7 linked regions of the Homo sapiens genome follow. The protein of the gene in region 5 purifies or fractionates together with the protein of the main gene of each other region. This does not show direct contact. Each region holds a gene or a part of one and is shown on either strand. Other genes may lie near its edges. The genes, in order: CRCP, MYO6, POLR3H, PLIN3, RPRD1A, ANKMY2 and POLR3E.

Region 1 (4,501 bases), on a different chromosome or scaffold from region 5:
GAAAAAAAAGGTGGGGGTGAGGGATAATGTAGTCATTGTCATTTATCCTAGTGATCCAAGACGTGCTAGTAAGTTTTTTATTTCTGAAAGTTTCTTTTTTGTTTATATTTCATTTAGTTTAATGCAGCTTAGGGTTTCTTCCTGTGACTGGGAACCTTAGGTTGAAAAAAAAGGTCTTGACTGTAATTAAGGAGGATTGGATGTTGATAAAAGCTCCGGCCGTTAGTGAACTTAGCAAAATTCTTTTCTGCACATTATTTTCTCAAACGGAGATCATCTTTTCTCCAGGTTAAATAATCAAATCTTGGCTATTTCCCTCCTTTCCCTGCTTTATTCTTTGGGCGCAATCATCACTTACTGCAGTCTCAAACTCCTGGGCTCAAGCAATCCTCCTGCCTCAGCCTTCCAAGTAGCTGGGACTATAGCTATGTGCCACCATGTCCAGCTAATTATTTTTTATTATTTTTTGTAGAGATGGGGTTGCCCAGGCTGGTCTTGAACTCCTGGGCTCAAGTGATCCTCTCACATCACCCTCTCAAAGTGCTGGGGTTATAGACATGAATCACTGTGTCCGGCCTTTCACCTTTTCTTTCCAACACAGGAGAAACAGTCCAAATAAAGAAGTAAAGTTCAAAGCACCATCTCAAGGTTCTCAGATACCAACCATTTCAGGTAGTTGAGAACATAAGGGGAAATAAAACTTAAAAATCCAAAGTATCAACAGCTGGGTTAACATAAATGATACATTTATTATCTCAATCCCAGGAGCATCAAACCGGGTTGCCGACCTCCAAAAATGGCAACTTGAAGTCGCCAAACCTAAAGTCCTACTTTCCTCAAAATGATTCAAAGATCTGATAGCAACAATGTATACTATTAAATATTTGATCCAGAACAGTTCACTGAATCTGGCTTTCTAAATTTCAACTTTCTCTAATGTAAAATGAAAGTAACGCCTACAGCGAGGACAAAAGGAGAACACATGTAACAGTGTTTTACAAGCAATAACGCTCTATATGAGTCAAGACTTCATAATCACGAAATCACTAACAGGCCTAGATGGTAGTGCTGTTCAGGGCAGTGGCCTGTGAGGTCACAGGATTCACTGACCTCAGGCCGGAGGGCTCACAAATCATTCCAAATCAATACACAACCGGGCACAACAAGTCCTAAGCTGGGTGGCCACCTCATTTCCTCACCGAGCCTCTGAGTCAGCAGGCAGTCATCAGAGGGCCACAGCAAATCACAGCCCAGGCGTAACTGAAGAGGTGAGGCTTCAGCCTCCAAAAGACACCTGGCTTCCAAGTGAATGCTAATAAATGTTGGATGCTGGGACTGTTTTCTGAACCCAGGGAGAAAAAATGGCTCTAGTGTTAATATAGGGAACTTCTCACTCAAGTCCTTTGTGCTTGCCACTGTAAGTGAAACCTTTTATTTCCTTTTGTTTTCTAGAGAAGGAGTTTCGCTCTTGTCGCCCAGGCTGGAGTGCAGTCACGCTCACTACACTTCGCTCACTACAACTTCCGCCTCCCAGGTTCAAGCGATTCTCCTGCCTCAGCCTCCCAAGTAGCTGGGATTACAGGTGCCCGCCACCATGCCCAGCTAATTTCTGTATTTTTAGTAGGGATGAGGTTTCGCCATGTTGGCCAAGCTGGTCACAAACTCCTGACCTCAGGTGATCCACCCACCTCGGTCTCTTAAAGTACTGGGATTACAGGCGTGAGCCACCGTGCCCAGCCATTTGCTTTTTTTTTTTTAAAAGACAGGTTCTTGCTCAGTCACACAGGCTGGAGTACAGTGGCACTATCATAGCTCACTGCAGCCTTGAACTTCTGGGCTCAAACAATCCTCTCACCTTAGTCTCCTGAGTAGCTGGGACCACAGGTGTGCGCCACCATACCTGGCTAATTTTTTTCATTTTTTGTAGAGATGGGGTCTTACTATGTTGCCCAGGCTGGTTTTGAATTCCTGGCCTCAAGCAATCCTCCCACCTTGGCCTCCCAAAGTGCTGGGATCACAGGCGCAAGCCACCATGTTCGGCCACAGCTTTCATTTCTTATTCACTCTGGTGAGAAGCGATACTGCTACAAACCTTGGTAAACAATTTGCTACCTTTTGTAGCCAAATTCCAGAGTGGGAAGAATCTGGCTATAAAATGGTCCAACTACTGAGAAACAGCAGTTTCTACCAAGGCCTACCTACTTTGTAGAAACGAGAAGGAAACCATCTCAGGGGATGCCACACACATCTTTCTTCTCATCAAGCACAAGTACCTGGCTTGGAGGAGCAAAGTAAAGCTTCTGAATCAGAAGGTCCCAATCAGCCACTCACCAGCCCTCTGGGCTAAAATGGAGAGGACACTTGCCCCCTTCCAAGACTATGGGGCGGGCATTCGAAGTGACAGACAATCACAGGCACCAGGACCAAGGACTGAGACCGTGTCTGGCACACCCCATGCACTCTTTTTTTTTTTTTTTCCCAAGATGGAGTCTCACTCTGTCACCCAGGCTGGAGTGCAGTGGTGCAATCCTGGCTCACTGCAACCTTGGCCTCCCGGGTTCAAGTGATTCTGCCTCAGCCTCCCAAGTAGCTGGGATTACAGGTGTGCACCATCATGCCCAGCTAATTTCTGTACTTTTAGTAGAGATGGGGTTTTACCACTTTAGCCAGGCTGGTCTTGAACTCCTGACCTCAGGTGATCTGCCCACCTTGGCCTCTCAAAGTGCTGGCATTACAGGCATGAGCCACCGCGCCCGGCCCACCCCAGGCACTCTCAATAGCAGCAAATCTTCCCCCAAGTAATGATACCACTTTCCACAGGCTCTGGCTGAGGTCACACTAATCCTCATCTCTTCTCTCTGCCTGTCATTAAGCCATGAGTAACATATGTTGCTGATTAAAGCTGGAGGAGACATGACATATGATCTTTAACCCAGAGGGACAGGGATTCGTTTCTTGCTGTTCTGTTTGTTTTTTCTCTCCTCTAAGCTCTAGGTTGAAACTCCAATACAGTGTAAAGCATGAAAATAATCAGGACACATGAGAAAGGGGTTTCTATTTAGCCTACAGGCGGGTTCCCAGAGAAAGGCACCCTTCATGAAAGGAACTGTTCTAATTTAATTTTGGGTACATTCTGAAGGGCAAAAACAACCCTAGGAAGACAATGAACAATTTAGTAAAAAATTAAATACCCTGTGGCCTTTTAAAAAGTTTTTCCATTAGCAACTCTAAAAATCGTATTTTTGACCATTTTCTTCCATACTTTTCTAAAGGAAATTTGACAAAGAGCTAAGTATTTCTAAAACTGACTTTGGAAACTGCTTTATTCTCATTTTGTTAATTCTCTAAAGTTTCTTCTTCTTTTTTTTTTTTAAACTGGCAATTAGACGGCCTGCTTAACACTTGTCAGGTACCGATGCTCTCTGCCCTGTAATAAGAAGGCAGCGGCCACAGCGTGCCCAGTGGTGGCCCGGGTATCTCCCTGGATCATTTCCCGGGCCCCTTATCCCATCGTAGGCCCCTCTACTCTGGCTGCCTCCTCCTATTCCAAAGCCTACGCTCTCAGTACAAAGCGGACTTCACAAGTGATGAGGCTGTACTAAATAAACGGTTTATGCAGGGAAATGGGATCACATTCATGGTTTTAGATGTGATCTCTGACGGTGATGTGGGAGATGGACTTGGGGAGCCAGGGAGAATGGGGAGAGGATAACCGCAAGAGCCGCGTGAAGAAATAATGGCAGAAATCAACGCAGTACACGGGGGAGAGAAGCAAGAACGAAGACAGAAGCAACAGAACTTGGGGACTCCCTGACTGTGAGATGAAAGGAAGAGAATGGCTTGCAGGTTTCCGGCGTGGGAGGCCAGGCCAGGAGATGAGCAAGGAAGGGAGCTGATGGGACAGCGCACACATGCTCCCCTCACCCAGAAAGAGAGGAAGCAAGAGCAGGGTGAAGGGTGGGCGTGGGGACAGAGAATGTTCACCAGAGACATGCTGAATTTCATGTTTTTTATGCAACATCTGGTTGGCAACAACGCCTACAGGGAAGCAATGGCCAGAATGGCCTGGACATCAGGGGAGTCGGAGAGCCGCCAAGTCATCAGCCAAAACCCTAGAGGAGGAATGAAATCTCCTCCAGTGTTTTGTGGTCCCTAAGTCCACACTAACTAGGATCAAACTGGCAAGGTCTCTTTTTCCTTAAGAAATGGAGTGGTTGGGCAGCCTCTTAAAAAAAACGCAGTTCCTGGCTTGTCCACCACAGCCATTCTACATCTCAGACCCACAGCAGCCTCCCCAGCACAGGCGCCCTTCACTCACCAGCTGGATCTCCACAGCAGTCACAGGCCGGTGGTTCAGCAGCTGGAGCTTCTCAGCTCTGTGGAGGGAAAGTACAGCGTTGACAACTCGCATAGCCCTAAGTCCTGAGTCCTGACTGAGCTGCACAGAGAATAATTTGCCAGATAAAAAATGGGAGAACCACTGGAGTGTGGCCCTCAGTTC
Region 2 (3,500 bases), on a different chromosome or scaffold from region 5:
GCATAAAAGAGAATGTAAGGTAAAGTAAAAACAAGTAAAATTATACTGTAAAAATAACAGTAACTAACTGAATTTGTTAATGTGGAGGTATTAAGAGGTTTTTGGTGGTTTCTCCAATTTTTTTTTTTTTTTAGCCAGGGGTCTCACTGTCACCCAGGCTGGAGTGCAGTGGTGCAATCTCTGTTCACTGCAACCTCCATCTCCTAGGCTCAAGCAATCCTCTAACCTCAGCTTCCTTGGGACCTCAGGCTCATACCACCATGCCCAAATAATTTTTTGTATTTTTGGTGGAGACAGGTTTTGGCCATGTTGATCAGGTTGGTCTCTAACTCCTGAGCTCAGGTGATCCCTGCGCCTGGGCCTCCCAAAGTGCTGGGATTACAGGTGTGAGCCATCACATCTGGCCTCCAAATTTTTTATAGTATTATATTACTTTTATCATTTATTTATTTATTTTTAGACGTAGTCTCACTCTGTCGCTGAGGCAGGAGTGCAGTGGCACAATCTTGGCTCACTGCAACCTCTGCCTCCTGGGTTCAAGCAATTCTCCTGCCTCAAGTAGCTGGAACTACAGGCGCGTGCGATCACACCTGGCTAACTTTGGTATTTTCAGTAGAGACGGCGATTCACTATGTTGGCTGGGCTGGTCTCAACCTCCTGACCTCAAATAATCCGCCCACCTCGGCCTCCCAAAGTGCTGGGATTACAGGCAGGAGCCACCATGCCCCACCACTTTTATTTTTATTTATTTATTTTTTTTGAGACGGAGTCTTGCTCTGTCACCCAGGCTGGAGTGCAGTGGCGCGATCTCGGCTCACTGCAAGCTCCGCCCCCCCGGTTCACTCCATTCTCCTGCCTCAGCCTCCCAAGTAGCTGGGGCTACAGGTGCCCCCCATCACGCCTGGCTAATTTTTTTTTTTTGTATTTTTAGTAGAGACAAGGTTTCACCATGTTAGCCAGGATGGTCTCAATCTCCTGACCTTGTGATCCGCCTGCCTCGGCCTCCCAAAGTGCTGGGATTACAGGCGTGACCCACCGTGCCCGGCCATTTTCTTTTTGCTCCAACTTTAGTTTTCTTTTTTCATTTTTTTTTTTTTTTGAGATGGAGTCTCACTCTGTCACCAGGCTGGAGTGCAGTGGCACAATCTTGGCTCACTGCAATCTCCGCCTCCCAGGTTCAAGCGATTCTCCTGCCTCAGCCTCCCAAGCAGCTGGAATTACAGGTGCACGCCACCACACCCAGCTAGTTTTGTATTTTTAGTAGAGACAGGGTTTCACCATGTTGGCCATGATGGTCTCGATCTCCTGACCTCATGATCCGTCCGCCTCAGCATCCCAAAGTGCTGGGATTACAGGCATGAGCCACCATGTATGGCCTCCAACTTTTATTTTAATTTCAGGGATGCACGTGCAGGATGTGCAGGTTTGTTACACAGGTAAACGTGTGCCATGGTGGGTTTGATGCACAGATCATCCCATCACCTAGGTATTAAGTTGCGAGGGATATCTTTCTTAGCAACAGAAGAAATGGCATAAAAATTGTCTTCTTTAACTTTTTGCTATGAAATTTTTCAAACATAAAGAGTAGAGGTAATAATGATGAGCATGTACTTGCCATCATTGAGTCTCAACACATTTTGTAATTTTGAAAAACTAAGGACGTTTTCTATACAATTTCAATACCAATAACAAAATATATTAAATTACATAAAAAGTCAAAGTCATTCGGGTTGAAATTACATACCTTAATTTTGGCCATCAAAGTATCAATAGAAATTTCCAGATTCTTGATCTGTTTATTCATCTCGGGTTTTCCATCTTTCAACACACTGACTACCTCATTAAATTTATCAAGTCGTTTTTTCAGTGTGCCCACCTTAACCAGACCATCAATGCTGTAAAAATAATACTTCATTAGAGCTTAATTTCATCCTTTAGTACTTTTGGCAGATTTTTCATTTATAAAATGCTAAACAGGGTATTTCACTTCTGTTTTCAATATTATCTACTATTCTCTTTTTCAGATCTCTTGTTGAAGGCTAAAAAAAATCAAATATGAGTGTGAATGACACTGATGCCTGTCAATGGGATTAAAGCCTTCTACAACTTTGAGAATTCAAATCACAGAGGAAATTAATCTAGTCTCTTTGAAAAGGTGTGATGGATCAATAGAGATATTCAGACTTCCAATTTTTAAAAGTGTAAATTAAAAATGAAAGATTCAAATAAGAAATACACTAATTTATAATGGGACAATGTAATTCCTACAGATAATCTTGAAAATTATGTAAACATATTAGTGAGATGTTTTTTAAAAAATGTCACCTTGACATTATCAAGAAACTCAAATAACTAAAATAATCAGAATAAAAGAGCTTCTCTCAACTACTTACTTCTTGTTTTATAGTCTTTACACATTTTTGTATGCCACTTCAAATCCTTTTATAGAATGAGGCAAGTAATAAGGTAATAAATGAATTAACTAACTTCAAATAAATATTACAAATAAAAGACTAATACATCATTTTACAAAGAACATGAGAAAACCTGAGTATCCAAACTGCTTTTTATTATGACTTTATTGTCATTTTGTATTACAGTAACTAGGTTTTGTAGAGTTCTTTTTAGGAACTATTCATCTTACCGAGGTTTGTGTCTCCTCTTGCAAAGCCACATTCGAATAGTTTTTTGCATTTTAATGCAGGCTTCAGCTCGATATTTTATTTTGTTTTTCACTATGTGTAAGAGTAAAATAAAATGATAGAAAATTATTCAGTTTAAATCTAACATATATTAAAAAAACTCATTTTCACAAAGTAATGCTCAAGAAACATGAAATCTTGACGACCATATTATTATATATCAGACATCAAAAACAAAGTTTTAACACCTTTTTTGTTTGTTTTTGTTTTGACAGTCTCAACCCAGGCTGGAGTGCAATGGCATGATCTTGGCTCATTGCAACCTCCACCTCCCAGGTTCAAGAGATTCTCGGCCGGGCGCGGTGGCTCACGCCTGTAATCCCAGCACTTCGGGAGGCCAAGGCGGGCGGATCGTAGGGTCGGGAGATTGAGACCATCCTGGCTAACACGGTGAAACCCCGTCTCTACTAAAAATACAAAAAATTAGCCAGGCATGGTGGCGGGCGCCTGTAATCCCAGCTATGGGAGGCTGAGGCAGGAGAATGGCGTGAACCCGGGAGGCGGAGCTTGCGGTGAGCTGAGATCGTGCCACTGCACTCCGGCCTGGGTGACACAGCAAGACTCCATCTCAAAAAAAAAAAAAAGAGATTCTCATGCCTCAGCCTCCTGAGTAGGTGAGGTGGGACTACAGGCACACACCATGCTGGGCTAATTTGTGTATTTTTATTCGAGCCAGGGTTTTGCCATGTCGGCCAGGCTGGTCTTGAATTCCTGACCTCAAGTGATCCTCCCACCTCAGCCTCCCAAAGTGCTAGGATTACAGGCGTGAGCCACCACGCCCAGCCAGTTTTAACATTT
Region 3 (4,501 bases), on a different chromosome or scaffold from region 5:
GGCTGGAGTGCAATGGCGCAGTCTCAGCTCACTGTAACCTCTGCCTCCTGGTTTCAAGCAATTCTCATGCCTCAGCCTCCCAAGTAGCTGGGATTATAGGCACCCAATACCACGCCTGGCTAATTTTTGTATTTTTTTAGTAGAGACGGGGTTTCACTATGTCGGCCAGGATGGTCTTGAACTGCTGACCTCAGGTGATCCGCCCGCCTCGACCTCCCAAAGTGCTGGGATTACAGACTTGAGCCACCGTGCGCGGGGCCATTCCACAGCGTTTTTATCACCCTACAAAGAAACCCCGCCCAGTAGCAGTCACTGCTAATCCTGTCCTTCACCCAGCCTCTGGCAGCCACTTAACTGCTTTCTGTCTCTATGGATGTGGTTCTGGACACTGTACATGAATGGAGTCGCACACTGTGTGGCTTTTGTGTCTGGCTGCTTTCACTTGGCCCCATGTGAAGGTTCAGCCCGAGGTTGAGCCACACTGTAGTGCATGTCAGAATTCCTTCCTTTGTAAGGCTGCATAATATTCCATTGTGTGTCTCCAGCATGTTTTGTTTACTCATCCATCCATGGGGGACTCCGGGTGCCCAGCATTTGCTTTTGGATGTGGTTGTTCCAGCCTGGGGCTCCCTGGGCGCAGGATCATGTGCTGTCCCACCCCCGTGAGCCCAGTGCCCAGACTGGGCCTGGCACAAACCTGGTGCAGGCTCTGTGAAGTTTTTTTTTTTTTTGAGACGGAGTCTTGCTCTGTTGCCCAGGCTGGAGCGCAGTGGCATGATCTTGGCGTACTGCAACCTCCACCTCCTGGTTCAAGTGATTCTCCTGCCTCAGCCTCCTGAGTGGCTGGGATCATAGGCACCTGGTACCACACCCGGCTAATTTTTGTATTTTGGTAGAGACGGTGTTTTATCATGTTGGCCAGGCTGGTCTCAAACTCCTGACCTCAGGTGATCTGCCCACCTCGGCCTCCCAAAGTGCCGAGATTACAGACTTGAGCCACCCCGCCCGGCCTCTGTGAGGATTTATTAAACCAAACTGAATGTTGGGCCATGTGGGGGACAGGGTTTTTCCATCTGTGCGTAAGTGGCCCTTGGCCGCCCTCATCTGCTCTCTGGGAGGTCAGCACAAGGCCCAGTCATCTTCATGGTGGCTGTGATGGCTCACGTTTGTGTCTTCCCAGGGTGAGAGGTCCATCGGCTGCCTCTCCTCATGCCCTGCTGATGCCAGGGTCCCTGCCGTCCTGGGGGGCATGTTGGCCGACTAAATGGTTGACGGCATCGTGGAAGCCTGTGTTTGGGATTAAACCTGTCTGAGGAAGGCAAGATTCGACCCGGTGGCCCTGTCTGGTGGGTACAGAAAGACCAGGTGTCTCCCCATGGCTATGTGGCTGTGAGTGGGTCACCCTGGCTCTGAGCCACTGCCTTATCCTCACGGTGGGAACTCTGTTGGTAACCAGCAGGGGGCAGCCGCGTGCTGATTCTCAGGTCAGCGTTGGACTCCTACTTTGGGGCTTCGAGCAAGGGCCTGAGTGACAAGGTGACATACAGCTAATGCCAGGGCCTGGGGTCAGAGTGTGCGATGTGGGCACAGACCCCACCTGGTGTTTTCCTTGCAGTCAGGTGAGTGGGGACCACCTGCAGCATGGCCTGAGAACCCACAGAGGCATTTTTGCTGGGCTGCTGGCCTGCGCCTCACAACACCAGGGCATTTTTAGCCTCCTCTCCAGGTCAGAGCTGTGCCTGGGGCCGACTTTGCTGCTCAGCAGGAGGTGGGAGTTTCCAAACCCTGCGTTCTTTACCAGTTGCTTCTGCCCTTTTTAGGAGCTGAAGGAGAGCCTGGAGGGAGGTTGAAATTGACTTTGGAGCCACTGATGGCTCAGAATCTGGGCTCAGGTGTGAGTAACCTGGCAGTTTTGGGAGTGCCCAGTTACAGGACAGCTGCTGCTGCCCCCCTGTGGGGGCCATGCTGTGAACTTGCAGGAGACAAAGGGAGGGTCTAGGCTTGCAGGGGGATGTGGCATGGAGCAGCCACACAGGCCCCCAGGTGTGCTGGCACCTGAGGGTGACATGGGAGCGCACTGGGGCCCCGGTCAGCATCACTGATGGGCTGTCTTCATTTCCAGTCCATTTTCGCTGCGTGGTGTTTCATCCATTCCTAGATGAGATTCTCATTGGGAAGATCAAAGGCTGCAGCCCAGAAGGAGTGCACGGTAACAGTGGCCCTGACGCCTCAGACAAGACTTGGGAACACTGTGGGGGCAGGAGGTCTGTGTCCACCCACATGGTCAGGGGAGGGCTCAGGTGTCGAGGCCGAACCTTCCCCGTGGTGTCAGAGAAGCTTGCCCACCCTCCCTTTTATGTGTTGTGTGAGGACCTCCATCAGCAGTGCGGTTTCACTGTGAGGCCGTCACTCAGGACTTCAGGGTGGGCACTGAAGCTGGCGGAAGTGACTGGGAGTCTTTAGCGCCCACTGGCCCCTGTTGTGTGCAGAGGTTTTGGGGACTAGGTGCTCCGGGCTTTGCCCAGGGCTGCTCCGCTATGTGGGTGGTGTACGCAGAGGCATTAGGTGGGGAAGGGGCCTAGGTTTCCACAGCGACATCCGCCTCGTGGGCAGCCCCAGGCAGGGCTTGCCTGTCAAGCATAAGACCCCGCAGTGTTTGGCGTCCACTGGGACCCCCATCTCAGGCCGTCACCTGCTTCCTTCCTTCCAGTCTCTCTAGGCTTCTTCGATGACATTCTCATCCCCCCAGAGTCACTGCAGCAGCCAGCCAAGTTGTATCCTCCAAGGGTTAAAGTGGTTTGTCACAGGGAGCTCAGGCCTCTCCAAAGGAAGGTCCCCACTCCTTAGGGTGGCCTTTGGGGCCTGTAACCTGATGTCACTGGCCTCTGTGCCTGCCCCTCGCCTGTGCTTTTGCTCCAGAGGCACCAGCCTGTCTGTGCCTCCCATGCAGGGAGTCATGTGATGCCCACATGCCTGTCTTTGTCGGGGCCATCAGGCTTGGCTGTCTGGGTTGTACACTGCACACCATTAGAGCTGTGGTGTCCTGGGGGACACCATTCACTTCCGGTTCACTTCACTTAGGTTGTCCCTGCAGGAATCATCTTAAAGATCACTTGCCCTGGAGGCATGCACTGGTCCCTGGGACGTGAGGCCTTGCCTGTGTGCCGGGTCGTGGGCTAAGATGTGTTCCTCCTGGGCCTCCGTTGTCCCTGTCCCACCCCTCACCTTGCTGTACTGGGGTTGTCTGTTTCTGTGGGGCTATCCACAAATCTGAGGCTCCTCACTGGGAAGGACTCTGACATGTCACAGCTGTACCCACGGTGCACAGCACGGGACCTGGCACAGAGGCAGGACCCAACAGTGGGACTGCCACCAGAGAACCCATGGCTCCCCTGTGTGGGCTCTGCCAGGGACGATGGAGAGCCAAGGGGGACTGCCCTGGCTGGGTGGCAGCACGGCTCTGGGTCTGCATGTGACTCCAGGATGTGTTAGAAAACCTGGCGCAGCCCGGCTGGTTCTCTCACCACCTGTCATCCAAGTGGGCAGGTGACCTCCCATCCCACTATGTCCTCTTGAAAACGGCAAGTCCTTGGGTGCCCATCAGCCTGTCACAAGGCTTTGATGAAAAGGGTGTGTGGGGCTCCGTGGCAGGAGGCCCAGGTTGCTCTTGTCTTGAGAGGTGGGACTCGGACCCTGTCTCGTCCCCTCCTGCTCTGGTGCTCTGAGATCCATGTGCGTCTGGCCGTGGTGCCTGGCTGGGGACCCCATGTTCCCCTTCCTGGGTCCTGGCCTCCAAGAGCGCTTGTTCCTCTCTGTTTGGCCCAGGCCTTGTGCATGGGGCTGGGACCTGCTTTTCCTGTGACTTCCCAGCCACAGTGATCTCACCCTGAGATTGGTTTTTCCTGCGGGGTCGGGGAGTGGGTGCTGAGGGAAGCCCCTCCCACTATCTGGTTGCTGCCTTGACCCTGGACCCCCTCAGCGACGAAGCGGAGCAGGTGTGGGTGTGGGAGTACGAGACGGAGGAAGGAGCACACGACCTCTACATGGACACCGGCGAGGAGATCCGCTTCCGGGTGGTGGACGAGAGCTTTGTTGACACGTCCCCCACAGGGCCCAGCTCAGCAGATGCCACCACTTCCAGTGAGGAGCTGCCAAAGAAGGAGGCTCCGTACACGCTTGTGGTGAGTGGCTCTGATGGTGCTGAAGCCCCCATGAGGCGGGAGAGCCGGAGTGCAGGGCTGGAAGCTGTGTCCTGGGGCTTCTGCTCTGGGATCTCCCCCAGCAGGTCAGGGATCCTGTTTGGGGGGTCTTGGCTGGTCACTTCTCCCTGGAGAGCCTGAGTTTCTGTAGGCCAGGGCTGTGAGGCAGTAAAGGTACATGGCTGCTGGTGGGGTGGGCGAGTCAGCTTGCAAAGGGGACAGAGCTCACGGTGGACAAGACCACTGATAAAGCGGCTTTGAGGCCAAGTGCAGTGGCTCACATCTATAATCCCAGCACTTTG
Region 4 (4,501 bases), on a different chromosome or scaffold from region 5:
AACAGAGCGAGACTCCGTTCAAAGAAAAAAAAGAGATTAGGACACAGACATACACAGAGGGAAGGGACGACCACGTGAATACACAGAGAGAAGATGGCTGTCTACGAGTCAAGGAGAGAGGCCCCAGAAGGACACTCTGATCTTGGACTTCCAGCCTCCAGAAATGTGAGAAAATAAATATCTGTTGTTTACATTTCCCAGACAGTACGAATTTTTTTTTTTTTTTTTTGAGATGGAGTCTCACTCTTGTCACCCAGGCTGGAGAGCAGTAGCATGATCTCGGCTCACTGCAATCTCTGCCGCCCGGGTTCAAGCGATTCTCCTGCCTCAGCCTCCTGAGTAGCTGGGATTACAGGTGCCTGCCATTGTACCTGGCTAATTTTTGTATTTTTAGTAGAGATGGGGTTTCACCATGTTGGCCAGGCTGGTCTTGAACTCCTGACCTCGTGATCCACCCGCCTCAGCCTCCCAAAGTGCTGGGATTACAGGCATGAGCCACCGCACCTGGCCACGATTTTTTTTTTTTTTTTGAGATGGGGTCTTGCTCTGTTGACTAGGCTGCAGTGCAGTGGCACAATCATAGCTCACTGCAGCCTCCAACTCCTGGGCTCAAGCAATCGTCCCACCTCAGCCTCCCAAGTAGCTGAGATTACAGGCACGCACCACCACAGCCAGCTAATTGTTTTAAATTATTTTTTGTAGAGATGGGGTCTTGCTATATTGCCCAGGTGGGTCTCAAACCCCTGGACTCATGCGATCCTCCTGCCTTGGGCTCCCAAAGCACTTGAGGGACTCACACAAAGAGGTGTGAGCCACTGTGCCCGGCCCCAGACAGTGTGGTTTGTGGCAGCATCCTGAGCAAATGAGTGTACAACCAGATACAGTGCCAGGAGCAAGCGGGAATGGCCCTGCCAGCCTGCAGAGGGGTGAGCAATAAGCCACTGAGCTCTGGGTGGGTGTCTGCTGCGGGGTGAAGGCTGCTGGCTCAGGGCCCCGACCCCCTGGAACCTCACCAGGCTTAGGACCTGCGACAGCTGCAGCAGAGCCTCCTGTGCCCTCTGCTTGGTGGCTCGAAGCTTGCCCAGCGAGTGCTCATAGGCGTGCTGCCGCAGCCTCTCCGACAGGGAGCCCAGACGTACGAAGTAGCTCTGTTCCTGCCGCTGCTGCTGCACGGACGCGACGTCAAAGCCATCCAGGGATGTGGCGATGCGGGCTGCAAGGAAAAGGAGAAGGGTCTCTGTGAAGACCAGAACACACAGCTGGGCTCGTCCCATGCAGACAGTCCCAAGAATCACACTGTCCAGTTTATTTATTTATTTATTTAGAGATGGAGTCTCGCTCTGTCGCCCAGGTTGGAGTGCAGTGGTGTCATCTCGGCTCACTGCAACCTCTGCCTCCCGGGTTCAAGTGATTATCCTGCCTCAGCCTCCCGAGTAACTGAGATTACAGGCGCCCGCCACCATGCCCAGCTAATTTTTGTATTTTTAGTAGAGACGGGGTTTCACCATGTTGGCCAGGCTGGTCTCGAACTCCTGATCTCCAGTGATTCATCCGAACTGGCCTCCAAAAGTGCTGTGATTATAGGCGTGAGCCACCACACCTGGCCATGCTGTCCAGTTTATAACCCAGTTCTACTTCTTATAAACCTCGAAGGCCTGGGAGCAAAGGATTCTGCCTTGGTTTTCCCTATCTGCAAAACGGGGATAAGGAAAATTAAACCTCACAGGAATCAGAGACCTTAGACTAGCAGGAGGGTCTCAAGCTATGGCCTGCAGGCCAGACCTGCCTTGGACAACCTGTGAATATAGGCCTGAATGTTCATTATGCAGTCCTGCAGAGAATAACAGCATTCCAGCCAGCAATACATCACATATACTACAGAGGTCCCATAAGATTATAATACCGTAGGCCGGGTGCAGTGGCTCATGCCAGTAATGCCAGCCCTTTGGGAGGCCAAGGCGGGCAGATCACTTGAGGTCAGGAGTTCAAGACTAGCCTGGCCAACATGGCACTACCCCATCTCTACTAAAAATACAAAAATTAGCCAGGCGTGATGGCACTAGCCTGTAATCTCAGCTACTTAGGAGGCTGAGGCAGGAGAATCGCTTGAACCCGGGAGGTGGAGGCTGCAGTGAGCCAAGATCACACCACTGCACTCCAGCCTGGGTGAGAGTGAGACTCCGTCTCAAAAAAAAAAGAGAATAATGACATTTCAGCCAACAATGGACTGCATATACTACAGTGGTCCCATAAGATTATAATACCATATATACCGTATTTTTCCTGTACTTTTTCTTCTTTTTTTTAGACAGGGTCTCGGTCTGTTGCCCAGGCTGGAGTACAGTGGCACGACCTCAGCTTACTGCAGGCTCAACCTCCCAGCTTCAAGCTATCCTTCAACCTTGGCCTCCCGAGTAGCTGGGACTACATAAAGCTGGGACTACGGCAAGACACCTGGCTAATTTTTGTACTTTTTGTAGGAATGGGGTCTCACTATGTTGCCCAGGCTGGTCTTGAAATCCTGGACTCAAGCAATCTGCTCGCCTCAGACTCCCAAAGTGCTAGGTTTACAGGTGTGAGCCATTGCACCTGGCTTCCTGTACCTTTTCTATGTTTAGATCTGTTTGTTTTGTCGGTTTTTATATTTTGAAGTACAGTCTCGCTCTGTTGCCCAGGCTGGAGTGCAGCGGTGCAATCATAGCTCACTGTAGCCTTGAACTCCCAGGCTCAAGTGATCCTCCTGTCTCAGCTCCCAAATAGCAACTGGGACTACAGGCGTGCACTAGCACACCCAGCTAATTTTTAAATTTTTTGTAGAGATGGGGTCTATGTTGTCCAGGCTGGTCTGGAACTACTGGGCTTAACTAATCCTCCCACCAAAGTGCTGGGATGACAGGTGTGAGCCACCACGCCTGGCCTCATCCCATGTTCGTAGGTTCATATGTGTATATGCATGTATTTATTTACTTATTTATTTATTTATTTATTTTTTTGAGACAGAGTCTCACTCTGTTGCCCAGGCTGGAGTGCAATGGCATGATCTCGGCTCACTGCAACCTCCGCCTCCCGGGTTCAAGTGATTCTCCTGCCTTAGCCTCCTGAGTAGCTGGGATTACAGGAATGTGCCACCATGCTTGGCTAATTTTTGTATTTTTAGTAGAGATGGGGTTTCACCATGTTGGCCAGGCTGGTCTCAAACTCCTGACCATGTGATCCAGCTGCCTCAGCCTCCGAAAGTGCTGGGATTACAGGCATGAGTCACCACACCTGGCCTTTATTTTTTTTGAGATGGAGTTTCACTCTTGTTGCCTGGGCTGGAGTGCAATGGCGCAGTCTTGGCTCACCACAAGCTCTGCCTCCCAGATTCAAGCCATTCTCTTGCCTCAGCCTCCCGAGTTAGCTGGGATTACAGGGATGCGCCACCATGCCTGGCTAATTTTGTATTTTTAGTAGAGATAGGGTTTCTTTATGTTGGTCAGGCTTGTCTCGAACTCCCGACCTCAACCTCCACCCGCCTCAGCCTCCCAAAGTACTGGGATTACAGCCATGAGCCACTGCGCCCAGCTGCATGTATTTATTTAATCCTGCTCCTACTGTACCCATGCTTTTTTTTTTTTGAGATGGAGTCTCACTCTGTCGCCCAGGCTGGAGTGCAGCGGCCCAATCTTGGCTCACTGCAACCTCTGCCTCCCAAGTAGCTGGGATTACAGACGCCTGCCACCGCACCTGGCTAATGTTTATTTTATTATTATTATTTTTTTGAGACGGCGTCTAGCTCTATTGCCCAGGCTGGAGTGGAGTGGCATGATCTCGGCTCACTGCAAGCTCCGCCTCCCAGGTTCATGCCATTCTCCTGCCTCAGTCTCCCGAGTAGCTGGGACTACAGGCACCCGCCACCACGCCCGGCTAATTTTTTTTTTTTTTTTTTTTTTTTTTTTAGTAGAGATGGGGTTTCACTGTGTTAGCCAGGATGGTCTCGATCTCCTGAACCTGTGATCCGCCCGGCCTTGGCCTCCCAAAGTGCTGGGATTACAGGCGTGACCCACCGTGCCCGGCCTAATTTTTGTATTTTTAGTAGAGACCGGGTTTCACCATGTTGGCCAGGCTTGTCTCAAACTCTTGACTTCAGGTGATCTGCCCACCTCGGCCCACCAAAGTGCTGGGATTACAGGCTGAGCCACCGCGCCCTGCCTATATCCTAAGCTACTTATTTGCAAAAATCCCAATCCCCGCACTTTGGGGGGCTAAAGCAGTAGGATCACTCCAGCCAAGGAGTTCTGGATCAGCTGGGATGACAGAGGGAGACCCCGTCTTTACCAAAAATTAAATAAAGAAAAATTAGTTGGGCGTGATGGTGTGTGCTTGTAGTCCCAGCTACTCGGAGGCTGAGATGGGAGGCTCGCCTCAACCCAGGAGTTGGAGGCTGCATTGAGCTATGATCGCACCACTGCACTTCAGCCTGGGCAAGAGAGTGAGACTCTATCTCTAAAACAAATAAATA
Region 5 (3,619 bases):
TAACTACTATTCTTTCTGTGAGAAAATGCACCCCAAGTCCCAAAAGTTGACTAAAAACTTTGGAATAAGCCATGTATTATTAGTAGTGCATGGATGAGCACTACTTATATGTGTCTCTGTTTTGGAGAGAGGTCAAATTGTTAAAAGAACTATTTGCAGAACTACTTGGCTATTAAAAATAAATGTCTGCCTTCTTCATATGCAATTCATTGTAACTATAATTTCTAATACTGAGAAAGAAACAATGAAGCCATTCAGACTAGAGAGACATAATTGGCTTGTGGGATTTTCAAGATGTTTTATTGACTATCTAATTTGAATCTACTTACAAAGAGAAGAAAAATGTCTAGTATGTAAAGCAATGAATGAAAATAAATGTTTATCCTAAGTCATTATTGAGTACAAATCCACAGCTTAACAATGTGTTTTTAACAGCAGGAGAGCATGCAACTGCTCTAACACACAGGGTCAGAAATAAAAGGTAAAAGTACATTTGTTTTGTAACTGTAAATATACAAATATAAAATTTACCATATCTACCCTGTAGTGTGGCACTGCTTAACTGCCAAATATACAGTCATTCAAAAACCTTAAGGAAACATTGAAAATGTCTCAGGCTACTTTACTGAACATTAACGAATATTGTGTTCTTGAGCTATTAGAGCTAAAAGTATTATTTTTAAAGTTATATGAGCAAGGGAATAATAAAAGTATCATTTCACGTGTCTTTTAATCCCATAGACGGCTTTTTGTTAAAGGGATTAATTATGTTAAAAGGAAACTGATTTGACAAATAGAAACCAGTTCCAGAACCAAAGTTGTCCTCTTGGTAGAATGTCAAAATGTATATTATTTCCAAAGTATTTTCATTATTAATCTACTCAAATAATTACAAACAGTTTAATCAAGGGAGTCACTATTTAACACTTTTAAAATCTACACTGGCAGTTGGAATGGAACTTTTACAATGCTATTAAGGAACAGTTCTCTAGACTTTCATCTGCCCCTCAAAGTGACATCCCTGTTTTATGTTAAATTACCGACCTCTAAGGAATCAAAGGCATGTAGAGACACAGAATTGATATTTTGTTTGGGGAGAAGGGTAAAGATTATGTTGGAACATTTAGTCCCTTCTACAATCAAGTCCTAACTATACCATAATAAAGTCTCAATCAACTCCTAATTAGTTCTTCCCCTTCAGGAATTACATAGTATACAGTGATTAAATGCTGAAGAAAATAAAGAAAAACAATTGAAAATACCTGAAGAAATACAAACAAGAGATTTCTCACAAGGCCTTGGATCAAAAAAAAAATTTACAAAAAGATCTTTTGAAAATAATCACTATTTGTGAGCTTATTAATACACACAAATCATCACTTTGTTCAAATTAAGTCATGTTAATTTACCAATAAAATAGTAAACAAACCAACATTTTAAACAATTTTATAAATTACTCGTTGTTCCTTTTGTTAGTGTTTCTTTCTCAACAATATACAAAAATAACACTACAGGACTATCCACCTAACCTGTCTCCATCTCTTGCAAAGTCCTGGGACCTGGAAAGAGGCTGGTCCATCAATCTTCACTGTAGATGTCTCCCGCAAAGGGCAGGTGCATGTGGCTGCCAGTGACATTGGGCAATCGAGATAAGTCTGGCAGGCTCTGGATCCGGGACCTGAGTTCTTTGCGCACCAGGGAAACTCTGGCTAGCTTGCGCTTGTACTCCTGTAACATCAAACCACTTTCATTAGCATTCAGGGATTGAAAAAACTTCCTAGCTAATAATGACCTACATAAACCCAGGTACTATATATACTCAGTTAATGCCATATTTAAAAAGGTTATTCCAGTGTGAGTTTTCACATCAAAAGATGAGCTTTGGAAATATATAACTAGTAAACTATTATTATTAAGAAAAACCACAATCTTTAGCTGTTGCTTCACACCAGTAGAAAGAAGACTAACATTAATGTGCTTAACCTCGACATATAAGATGTTCAGGTATTCTTGAGTTTGGGCAAGAAAAATTACATATTTATTTTCATAAACCTTAACTAAAATTTGGCAAGAACATCTATGAAAACTCAGTAGGAATGGCCAGAGTCTGTGGTGTCTGAAGCAGGACTGCTCCCTTCCTGTGCCCTCCCATCTAAGCAAGGAGGGTCCACTCCAGACTGCTGCAGCCAAGAATACAGGATCACTCTCCCTGCAACTCCCAGTGGGAGGGTTTTATTCCCAGAAAGAGCGCCTCTCATCCTACCCCAACTACCTGGTGCTGAAGCTAAGTCCTGAGATAGAGCAGGGAAGAGCCTGGGGACTCCCTCCTGTCCAGCCCCCACTCCTGGAAAAGAAGTTCCTTCTTATGCGTGGAGGACTGAGAATACTTGGGCCCTGATAAGCCTCACCCCCAACTCATGAGGAAGGTGGCTCCACAGCAGAAGAGGCAAGCCAAGACAACCTCAGGCTGCTGCACCCCTCCCTTTCTCCAAAAGCTCAGCACCCACAACAGGGTATCACTCAGAGAAAAGCTTCCCACTATACCCATCTCAGTTCCAGGGTCCTGACTCAAAGATTTGGTCTAAGGAAGTAGCAGGCAGTAAAATAGATATGTCCATGGCAATTCACTATTACCACAGTGCATGGCACAAGGCAGGGAGATTCACGCTCTTTCCAAATGTGGTCACAGGTAAGTCCTGAGAGGACCATCCTAGAGAGTGCATAGATGAGGAAACATCTAAGGAAGAAACCCAGCTAGGAGTTTACTGCAACTCTCCAGGAAAGAAAGGACTAGGGCCTGAACCGAACCAAACCAACAGTAGTAAGGATAGAGCAATGTCCTTTAAAAACTACATTATATGTAAATAATACCTTAATGTCAAAGACTAAATGTTTAGAAAGAAAAATCAGCAGGAATTGGTTGTGGTTCTGCTGTGAGGAATAATGAGGGTTCAGGCTTCATAAGCAGGTGGATATCGGAGCTGTTATCTGAGATAGCAGAGAGGGGCACAAACTCCTTTGGAGAAGGATACAGAGTTCATTTTTAAGCATGATAACTGTGAGTTATCCATGGGATTTCTAGTAGGCACTTGGAAATGTGATTACAGTATTCTGAGCTACAAATAAAGATTTAGGCTTTATAACTGACAAATTCTAGCTAAAACCAAGAGAAGAGTATGAGCCACTTAGGTTTATATAAATAATCTACAACGTTTCTCAATCATTTTGCCCCTCCCTTCTCTACTCTTCTGCACATCTACCATGAGCCAAGATTTCATCAAACTTTATTTTTTGTGGTTTTAGTAAAAATATACATATAATGAATCTATCTGATTTTCTATCTTTTCCATCATACCACACTACCCCCCATGATTCTAATGTATCCACCCAAAAGATGGCATGACCCTCGTCCCTCTCCTGGTTAAGAATCACAGTACACACAGGAAGGAAGAGAAGTGAGCTAATAGCAAAATGCAGAAATGTCACCAATGTTGAAAAGGATCATGAAAAGAGCAGTAAAATAGTAGATACCAGGATAGAGAAGTGAGCATGTATTTGGAAAATTTCCCACTTTTTTCTTATGAAAATACTGGCTTGCTGAACAATACCACTCACATCC
Region 6 (4,501 bases), on a different chromosome or scaffold from region 5:
GTAATTTGTTTCAACCAACAGCATGAAACAACATGGCAATTTCAAGGCTAGTCCTTGAGAGGTCTTCTGTGTTTCTACCTGCCCATGTGTACCTTTGCTATTGCCATGACAACATGCTCAGCCTAGCCTGCTAGTACAAGAAGGATGAGAGTCACATGGAGCACAACTGCCCCAGCTGAGAACAGCCAACCACAACTGTGAGAGAAAGACTAAATGATTATCATTTTAAGCACTGAGTTTGAGTGTGTTTTTATAAGCAGTAATAATTAACCAATATAAATAGTTTGATTTAATTCTGGAATTTCATTTAATTCAGGAAACAGGTTCAGAGAAGTAAGTCATTAAACAAGATGAAGCTGAAGAAGTAGGTCACAGCAGATTATAATGGGTTTCATACAACATGCTGGAGAATTTCAACCTTAAAGTCAACAGGCAGTTGATGCTACCTATGGGATTAAGTGAATGTACGGACACATGCATGTGTCCAGTATCTGGATATGAGAACAACACAATCAGATATGCCTTTTACAAAGATAATTCTGGCAGAAGGGGGCAGTACAGTCCATAGGGATTAAAGACTGGTAACAGTCAGAAACTATAGTTTTACAAGGATATGTTGATGAAGACACTGTCATTAAAGTCAACATCAGAAGAGTAAAGAATGTATATTTATGAACTGTCCTATTCTAGGTTTCACATCTGCACCAGCCTTGGTCTCGTGCCCCACGGAAAACCTTTCTCTTATTTTCTCATATTCATTCATTCATATCCTTTCTTTCCATGAGGTGATCAGCAAAGAGGCAAAGGAAGACTGGCAGTTTAGCAGAAGACAGACACAGTAAAGAACTATATTGATCCTATTAATTCTTTTCCAAAACTACTTTTTAAGTATTAAATAGAATATTTTCGTTACTAGAATTTATTAGAAAACTAATGTCCACTCTTACAGAATATTAAAACTCAATCATCAGCTTGGCTGCATCTAAACCAGAGGTCAATGAAATAAAAAGAACTCCATTCTTACCATTTTGCAAACTGAACATCTTTTACTTGCTCCCTTTTCTCCACAGGTAGTGCAAAATTCCACATCCACAAAACCCACCTGGCCAGTGATGGCTTGGGTAAGGACGGAGAATGCAGTGGGATCAGAACCCTAGAGTGGGCATGAAGAGGAGAAAAAACAAATTCTGAAATCACCATGGAAACACTACAGAGGTATCAGCCCACGGACACTGCCGTCCTACAATGTGACACAAAAAGGAAGAAATCATTAAGGCTATAGATTACACAGGCTTTAAGACAAAATGACAAAAATCTTTTAGAATATACCATTTTCTGTACAAAACATATGAAAAGTCAGTCATATGTCCAGATAATTAAAGAGAAAAAAACACCCTTAATCTAGAAAAAAAGTATTTTTCCAATAAGGATAATTCAGTAAGCCCATAGCGTTTCAGATTTAGGACAATAACTCCAGAGCAGAATTTTTTTCTGAGAACTGACATCCAGAAAATATTCATATTCCATGAGACAATTATAGGGCACATCAAAAATGTTTAACTGTCTTAATTCTGAAAAGTTTAGTACAATCTAAGTATTTTAAAGACAATATATTTAAACTCATTTACTTGATGTTGGCTTGTAATTCAAATAAATTATCACCATTATAATTGGTATGTTCCAAATTTGTTAAGAAACACACATGCAGCAATTGAATCAAAGTATTAAGAAAAACCAAATGTGTGAAACTTACTACTAGTGGGCAATGGAAAATTAAAATAGGTTAAAAAATATTTATAATTTTTATCTATTTTTATTTTTTTGAGATGGAGTCTCTGTCACCCGGCTGGAGGTGCAGTGGCTCGATCTTGGCTCACTGCAACCTCCGCCTCCCAGGTTCAAGCAATTCTCCTGCCTCAGCCTCCTCAGTAGCTGGGATTGCAGGCGCCCGCCACTACGCCCAGCTAATTTTTTGTACTTTTTTTTTTTTTTTTTTTTTTTTTTGAGACGGAGCCTCGCTCTGTCGCCCAGGCTAGAGTGCAGTGGTGTGATCTCTGCTCACTGCAAGCTTTGCTTCCTGGCTTCATGCCATTCTCCTGCCTCAGCCTCCCAACTAGCTGGGACTACAGGCACCCGCCACCACGCCCGGCTAATTTTTTTGTATTTTTAGTAGAGATGGGGTTTCACCGTGTCAGCCAGGATGGTCTTGATCTCCTGACCTTGTGATCTGCCTGCCTTGGCCTCCCAAAGTGCTGGGATTACAGGTGTGAGCCACCACACCTGGCCAATATTTTGTAATTTTAGTAGAGACAGGATTTCACCATGTTGGCCAGGCTGGTCTCAAACTCCTGACCTCGTGGTTCGCCCGCCTTGGCTTCCCAAAGTGCTGGGACTACAGGCATGAGCCACCGCGCCTGGCCTATAAACTTTTTTTACAAAGAAAATTATAAGGGGCTGGGTGTGGTGGCTAGCGCCTGTAATCCCAGTACTGTGCGAGGCCAAGGCAGGCAGATCATTTGAGGTTAGGAGTTTGAGAGCAGCCTGACCAACTTGGTGAAGCCCCGACTCTACTGAAAATACAAAAATTAGCCAGGCATGGTGGCACGCCTGTAGTCCCAGCTACTTGGGAGGCTGAGGCAGAAGGATCACCTGAGTCCGGGAGGCAGAGGTTGCAGTAAGCCGAGATCGTGTCACTACACTCCAGCCTTGGTGACAGTGCAAGACCTTGTATTTAAAAAAAAAAAAATTATAAGGGTAAGCATTTATCTGTCTGAGACGATGCTACTAAAACCTATTTAGCAAAAAATAATCACAGCGTTTCTATTTTTCTTACCTACTCCTAATAGTTCTTTGTTCTGAGTTTTTCAAATTTGTTCATTTGTTCCAAACCAGCATTTTGACACTCTTTATAATTTTCATTTTCATTTGAGTATTTGCTTTTTCTTCCTAAGAATATTTGTTTTTATATTATCTTACCAACTGTACATAATAGAGGTTTAAAAATATCACCTGGTAACAATGTCCTACACTGTTCTGTATACTCAAGATAGTCAAAGAAAATATTCAAAGATTCAAGAAGTATTTTAAAAGTAGCACTCATTTTGAAACTACCATGTTCTTCTTGAATACAAATAATAATGACTGGGTCTGCTTTCACATGAAAGTGCTACGAATTCTCTTTTGTGCTGAGCCTTGAGACAGGCAGAAGCCAGAGTTCCACAGCAGCAGAGGGAACCAAAAGCTGAGCAGGAGGGCCCAGGCATTAGCACTGTCAGAAAACAACACAGTGAAGCTCACAGCAGCCAGCCCTGAGAACCATCGTATGCGGGGAAAAGGTTGGGCATCACTTCAGAGGGTTAGAACTTGCAGAATATGAAAACCAATTAGGCAGTAAACAATGGCTGTGATACGCACAATCACAGGCATTTGGGATGAAGTCTTCCAGACAGAAGAACATAAAACTCTCAAAGAACAAAAATGTTTAAAGAAAAGTCTTTCTAAAATGCATTAAATACTATCTTAACTTTATTATAAACCTTTTCTTGATGACTCAGATCACTGGGATAAACATTAATCATTATACTCTAGGCCGGGTACGGTGGCTCACGCCTGTAATCTCAGCACTTTGGGAGGCCAAGGCGGGCAGATCACTTGAGGTCAGGAGTTCAAGATCAGCCTGGCCAACATGGTGAAAACCCGTCTTTACTAAAAATGCAGAAACATTAGTCGGGCATGGTGGTGTGTGCCTGTAGTCCCAGCTACTCGGGAGGCTGAGACATGAGAATCGCTTGAACCCGGAAGACTGAGGTTGTAATGAGCTGAGATTGCGCCACTGCACTCCAGCCTGGGTAACAAAACAAGACCCCCCTCAATAAATAAATAAAAATAATAATAATTATACTCTATAAACTCTAATTACATTATTCTATTATATGGAGCTAGGATAACTTGTTGACCACAATATTGACCTGCTTTTTTTTTTTTTTTTTTTTTTTAAAGAACTCTGGGTTGCTGTTTTAGTTTTTCTGTTTTTTCCCAGGAAGGTAAAAGGTCAGCAACCATTTGTGAGTGCTGGAAATCCCACATAACAGGTACTGCTAGTTGCTTCTCTGATATCAATTCTCCCAGCTTCCTCAGTAACAGAAGTGTAATTTTGTTCAGAGGAGGAGTGTTTAGAAAAGCCAAAAAAAAAAATTTTCCTGGACTCCTGTGTAGCTAAGGAAAGTCATGTGACACAGGCAGAGGGCTTCTGGGAGAGCTTATGTTTTCCAGATATAGACCCCTTTGCTCTTCCTGCCTGCCTGGGATAGGAATGTGAGCTGGAGGAGGAACATCAAATGCCTCGTAACCATGAGATCATAAGTATGCATATGAGAACCTACACAGCTAAGGAATATTGGAAGGGAAAGATGAGAAAGTGTTTGGGTCCCCAAACTATTTTTAAGTCACTATGCCAGACCTAGTCTGCCTACCTTTGGGCATCTATGTATATGTGAATACA
Region 7 (4,501 bases), on a different chromosome or scaffold from region 5:
CCGTGCCTCTCTCTGCCCTTACCTTGGCGGTAACTCATACTTGGCCTAGCCCCCGTCATCCCCTAGATATCAGTTGATTGCTTTCTTTCCCGTCCACTGCTGTGCCGCAAAGCCGAGTATAGTGCCTGGCACCCAGGTACCCGGCGACTATTTGGTGAATGAATGAATGAATAAATGGGCTCAGCAGTCCCTCCTTCCCAGGCTTACGCAGATGTAGTCATTCAGCAGCTGTTCACTGGACCACTGTGTGCTGGGGGCTGTGACACATCAGTGAGCAGGGCAGGGTCCCCTTCCCTGGGAAGCTAATGGGCTGTGGGCAAGACTGATGAGGCAGGAGTCTCCGGGTACAGGCAGTGGGAGGCAGATTTCCCTTTTTTTTTTTTTTTTTTGGAGACAGAGTCTTGCTCTGTTGCCCAGGCTGGAGTTCAGTGGTGCCATCTCGGCTCACTGCAACCTTCACCTCCCAGGTTCAAGCGATTCTCCTGCCTCAGCCTCCTGAGTAGCTGGGATCACAGGTGCCCATCACCACGCCCGACTAATTTTTTTTTTTTTTTTTTTTTTGAGGCGGAGTCTCACTCTGTCTCCCAGGCTGGAGTGCAGTAGTGTTATCTTGGCTCACCGCAGTCTCTGCCTCTGGGTTCAAACGATTCTTGTGCCTCAGCCTCCTGAGTAGCTGGGATTACGGGCGCCCGCCACTACACCTGGCTAATTTTTGTATTTTTAGTAGAGATGGGATTTCACCATGATAGCCAGGCTGGTCTCGATCTCCTGACCTCAAGTGATCACCCACCTTGGGCCTCCCAAAGTGCAGAGATTACAGGCATGAGCCACCATGGCCGGCACAGGTTTCCCTTCTTAGAGAAAGCTGTTGATAGTCAAACTCACCTTTCAGAATCCTTTTAACCCAGGACTTAGACCTTTGGAAGGCAAAAGGCAAAAAGTAACTGCATCTGCCTTCAGCCTCCTTATATGCGGAGCCTGACCTCCAGTGGGAAGGGCAGGGGCAAGGAGAAGGTCCTCGGAGATGAATAGAGGTGGTTTTTCCTTGCTTGGGGGATGTTGCTAAGTTATTAGATGTGAGTTATTTAGATGCATTTAAGCTGCATCTACACTGCAGTAGCAGGAGTTACAACAGGGGGGTTGGTGATGGGATAGAAGAGTCCAAGGGACTCCGAGGACAGAGGCAGTGCCCTCTGCAGCCAGGGGGCCTGGAATGCTTCCTGCCCAAGTTGTGCCTCAGCCAAGTCCTTGGAGGAGCGAGCAGTCAAGGCTCAGGGGAGGCATGTGTGAAGGGCTCTGTAGGTATAGGGAAAAGCATGTGCAAAGGCCCAGGGGTAGGAGAGCATGTGGTTTATAGGAGGAGTTAGGAAGCAGGAAGGTAAACTGCTGCGTGGCGGGGTGGGGGTGGTTAGTGTTGGGAAGAAAGGAAGTGGAGCCATCAGTCACAAAGGGCCTTGCAGACCCCTTAAGAAGGGGTGACAGGCTGGTCCAGGAGGGGCAGGTGGAGGGCCCAGCCAGGAGGCACAGGCCTAGGTGAGCCCTCGCCTGCCTGCCTCTCAGAAGAGCATTTGCCCAGGCTGTAGGACGTTTCCCGATCAGTGCAGCCCCAGGGAAGATGTGTGCTTACTGGGGGATTGTGAACTTGGGTGGGGGTACCAGGTGAACTCTTGCCCTGGTTCCCCTGGGAGCTTTCAGGAGGGATTCCTGAATATACCCAGTGTGCAGCCTTGGATCCGCTTGCTTTTAGCATGAGCTGAGCTATTTCCTCCTTCCCCAAACTGCTTCCCTGAGCCACTGCCCTTAACTGAAGCTGGAAGCGCTGGCATAGCCCGGGGAGGTCAGCACTGTGTCCAGTCTCCCGGTTAAGTCGTCTTCCCTTCTTCCCAGATCGATGTGTACTTGGCCAAGAGTCTGGCGGAAAAGCTGTATCTATTTCAGGTAATTATGGGACTTGAAGGTAAAGAGGGGAGAAGCAGGTGTGGGTGGGTGGTGTGGACTCAGGAACACGGGCAGGAAACGATGGGAAACCTCAGCTAGGGTTCTCGGTGTGGAGAGTGTCATGGGGTCTCTTTGCTTTCGTGGGTGGGTTAATATTGGTCTCATTTCAAAGATGGGAAAACTGAAGGAACACAGGAGAGGCAGAAGTGTGCAGCAGTTAAAGCTGGGGCTCTGGGGTCAGACCGGATTGAGATCCAACTCCATCACACCATAGCTGCGAGACCGTGGGCAAGTTTCTTAATCCTTCTGTGCCTCACTTTCCTCACTTGCAAAGTGGTGATGGTGATAATGCCTGCCTCATAGGTCCCCAGGAGGACAGGCTGAGTCCACAGTGAAGTGTTTAGGATGCCGCCTGGCAGAGAGTTGGTGCCAGTGATGATGGCCGCTGTTGTCATGGAGGCTCCAAGGGGCAGCTCCATGGCAGCGTCTGTGAGCCCTCAGTCCTGCCAGCTGCGAGGGCCCCGGGTTGCTACCTCTGCCCCCTCCCCTTGCTGCTGGGCCAGCAGCTTGTCATTGTGGCCAACATGTATTGAGCATTGACCGTATGCAGACTGTTGAAAGCATTTACCTCAGTTACCTCTTTAACCCCACAATAACCCTATGGTGGTGATTATTACATTTTATAACCGATATATTGAGATAGAATTTACACACCACACAGTTTCCCCATTTCAGTGTGTAATGCAATGGATTTTAGTCTACTCATGGGGCTGTGCAACCAGCGCCACAGTCTGTTTTGGGACAGTTTTGTCCCCCTTTAAAGGAACCCCTTGCCTATTAGCGATCAGTCTGTGCCCCCCATTCCCACCTCCAACCCCAGGCAACCATTCCCCTTATTTTCTGTTTATGGTTTTGCCTATTCCGGACTTTTCACATAGCTGGAATCATGCAGTATGTGGCCTGCTGTGATTGGCTGCTCTCACTTTGCATGATGTTTTCAGGGCTCATCCACATGGTAGCTATAGCCTGCATCAATATTTGAGCTTTTCTTTTTTTTGTTTGTTTGTTTTGAGACACAGTCTTGCTCTGTTGCCCAGGCTGGAGTGCAGTGGCTTGATTGCGGCTCACCACAACCTCTGCCTCCCAGGCTCAAGTGATTCTGCCTCAGCATCCTGAGTAGTTGGGACTACAGGCACGCGCCACAAGCCCGGCTAATTTTTGTATTTTTAGTAGAGATGGGGTTTCACTATGTTGGCCAGCCTGGTCTCGAACTCCTGACCTTGTGATCTGCCTGCCTCGGCCTCCCATAGTGCTGGGATTACAGGTGTGAGCCACCGCTCCCAGCCAATATTTGATCTTTTACTGATGAATAATGTTCCATTGTATGGGAGACCACAGTTTGTTTATCCATTCATCAGCTGATGGGTATTTGGGTTATTTCTACTTTTTGGCTATTATAAATAATGCCACTGTGGACATTCACATAGAAGTTTTTATGATGAACGTGAATTCTCATTTCTTCTAGGTATATGCCTGGTAGCAGAATTGCTGGGTCTGCGTTTAGCTTTTTGAGGCACTGCTGGGCTGCTCTGCCCCATGTTGCCTTCCCACAGTTAGAGTCAGTGTTCATATCCCATGATGCACATGAGAACGTGAGGCACAGGGAGGCCTTCACGGGCACGGAGGCCTGGGGCATGCCACAGCAGCAATGTTGTAAGCCTGTGCTGGGAGGGCCTGGCCTCCACTCCCTGGGGTTCACCCTTATGGGCCGTGGGAATGGGGCCTGTCCTGTGTGCCTGCTCACCCTGTTTCCTTGACTGGCTGCAAAGTGATGGTGGAGGTGCCAGTGACCCCCGTGTGTCCAGAGTTCCAAACCCTGAGCCACCATCGGCTCTGTTTGCCTCCTCCGTGCTCACAGCGGCCTTGGGAGGTGAGGATGCTTAGCCTCAGGGAGGCGAGGTGCCTGCCTGAGTCCACAGTTAGCAAGGGGAAGGATGAGGACTGGAAGCCAGGCCTGTGATTTCAGAACCTGCGCCCTTCAGCCTTCCCACCCCCAGTCAGGTGATCTCAGAACTGCCCCCAGCCCCAGCCCAGGAAGCAGGGAGGAGTCACGGCTTTGCTGTGTGAGTGAGCTTTTAGGAAATGACCGTCTCCTTGCGCTAGAATGTAGCTGATCTGAAAGGGCCTATTTTCCGCACTGCCATACCTCCACCAGGCTCATTCTACAGGCTGTCATGAGACCAGGCAGAGCTTTTGAGGAGGGGTCCAGACTTTGACTCCTTCACCTGAGAGAGAGAGGGACAGTGTACTGTGAGGACAGATGTGGACAGGAGCCCCTGCGTGTTGAGCGCATTGCTGTGTGAGCCATTCACATAAAGATAAGAGCGGGCCATGGCTGCCTGGCTCCCTTTTCCAGCATCTTGTGAGGAAGCTCACACAACCAGATAAGGAGAGCGAATGGATTCACGAATTCCCACCTGCCCGTCGTCTGGCCTCAGCAGTGAGCAGCACGTGCCGGTGTTGCTTTCACTCTTTGCTTCCTCATGGACTCCTTTTGGTCGTC

Evidence for each region.
Region 1: the proteins of RPRD1A (region 5) and CRCP purify together in Homo sapiens (affinity purification with mass spectrometry, with the first as the bait; one large-scale study listed by BioGRID). This does not show direct contact.
Region 2: the proteins of RPRD1A (region 5) and MYO6 fractionate together in Homo sapiens (co-fractionation; one large-scale study listed by BioGRID). This does not show direct contact.
Region 3: the proteins of RPRD1A (region 5) and POLR3H purify together in Homo sapiens (affinity purification with mass spectrometry, with the first as the bait; one large-scale study listed by BioGRID). This does not show direct contact.
Region 4: the proteins of RPRD1A (region 5) and PLIN3 fractionate together in Homo sapiens (co-fractionation; one large-scale study listed by BioGRID). This does not show direct contact.
Region 6: the proteins of RPRD1A (region 5) and ANKMY2 fractionate together in Homo sapiens (co-fractionation; one large-scale study listed by BioGRID). This does not show direct contact.
Region 7: the proteins of RPRD1A (region 5) and POLR3E purify together in Homo sapiens (affinity purification with mass spectrometry, with the first as the bait; one large-scale study listed by BioGRID). This does not show direct contact.

Annotation. Positions count from the first base shown.
Region 1 is NC_000007.14:66,145,318-66,149,818, reverse strand, and holds part of CRCP (DNA-directed RNA polymerase III subunit RPC9), read right to left. Parts: intron 4,377-4,501; coding exon 4,319-4,376; intron 1-4,318. UniProt on the Homo sapiens protein: DNA-dependent RNA polymerase catalyzes the transcription of DNA into RNA using the four ribonucleoside triphosphates as substrates.
Region 2 is NC_000006.12:75,885,239-75,888,738, reverse strand, and holds part of MYO6 (unconventional myosin-VI), read right to left. Parts: intron 2,736-3,500; coding exon 2,645-2,735; intron 1,896-2,644; coding exon 1,745-1,895; intron 1-1,744. UniProt on the Homo sapiens protein: Myosins are actin-based motor molecules with ATPase activity. Unconventional myosins serve in intracellular movements. Myosin 6 is a reverse-direction motor protein that moves towards the minus-end of actin filaments.
Region 3 is NC_000022.11:41,530,367-41,534,867, reverse strand, and holds part of POLR3H (DNA-directed RNA polymerase III subunit RPC8), read left to right. Parts: intron 1-1,180; exon of another isoform or gene 1,181-1,894; intron 1,895-2,122; coding exon 2,123-2,209; coding exon of another isoform or gene 2,210-2,264; intron 2,265-2,710; coding exon 2,711-2,774; intron 2,775-3,979; coding exon 3,980-4,181; intron 4,182-4,501.
Region 4 is NC_000019.10:4,846,678-4,851,178, forward strand, and holds part of PLIN3 (perilipin-3), read right to left. Parts: intron 1,214-4,501; coding exon 1,014-1,213; intron 1-1,013. UniProt on the Homo sapiens protein: Structural component of lipid droplets, which is required for the formation and maintenance of lipid storage droplets. Required for the transport of mannose 6-phosphate receptors (MPR) from endosomes to the trans-Golgi network.
Region 5 is NC_000018.10:35,991,573-35,995,191, forward strand, and holds part of RPRD1A (regulation of nuclear pre-mRNA domain-containing protein 1A), read right to left. Parts: intron 1,729-3,619; coding exon 1,579-1,728; 3' UTR 1-1,578. UniProt on the Homo sapiens protein: Interacts with phosphorylated C-terminal heptapeptide repeat domain (CTD) of the largest RNA polymerase II subunit POLR2A, and participates in dephosphorylation of the CTD by RPAP2.
Region 6 is NC_000007.14:16,603,697-16,608,197, forward strand, and holds part of ANKMY2 (ankyrin repeat and MYND domain-containing protein 2), read right to left. Parts: intron 1,216-4,501; exon of another isoform or gene 1,154-1,215; coding exon 1,025-1,153; intron 1-1,024. UniProt on the Homo sapiens protein: May be involved in the trafficking of signaling proteins to the cilia.
Region 7 is NC_000016.10:22,303,269-22,307,769, forward strand, and holds part of POLR3E (DNA-directed RNA polymerase III subunit RPC5), read left to right. Parts: intron 1-1,887; coding exon 1,888-1,938; intron 1,939-4,501. UniProt on the Homo sapiens protein: DNA-dependent RNA polymerase catalyzes the transcription of DNA into RNA using the four ribonucleoside triphosphates as substrates.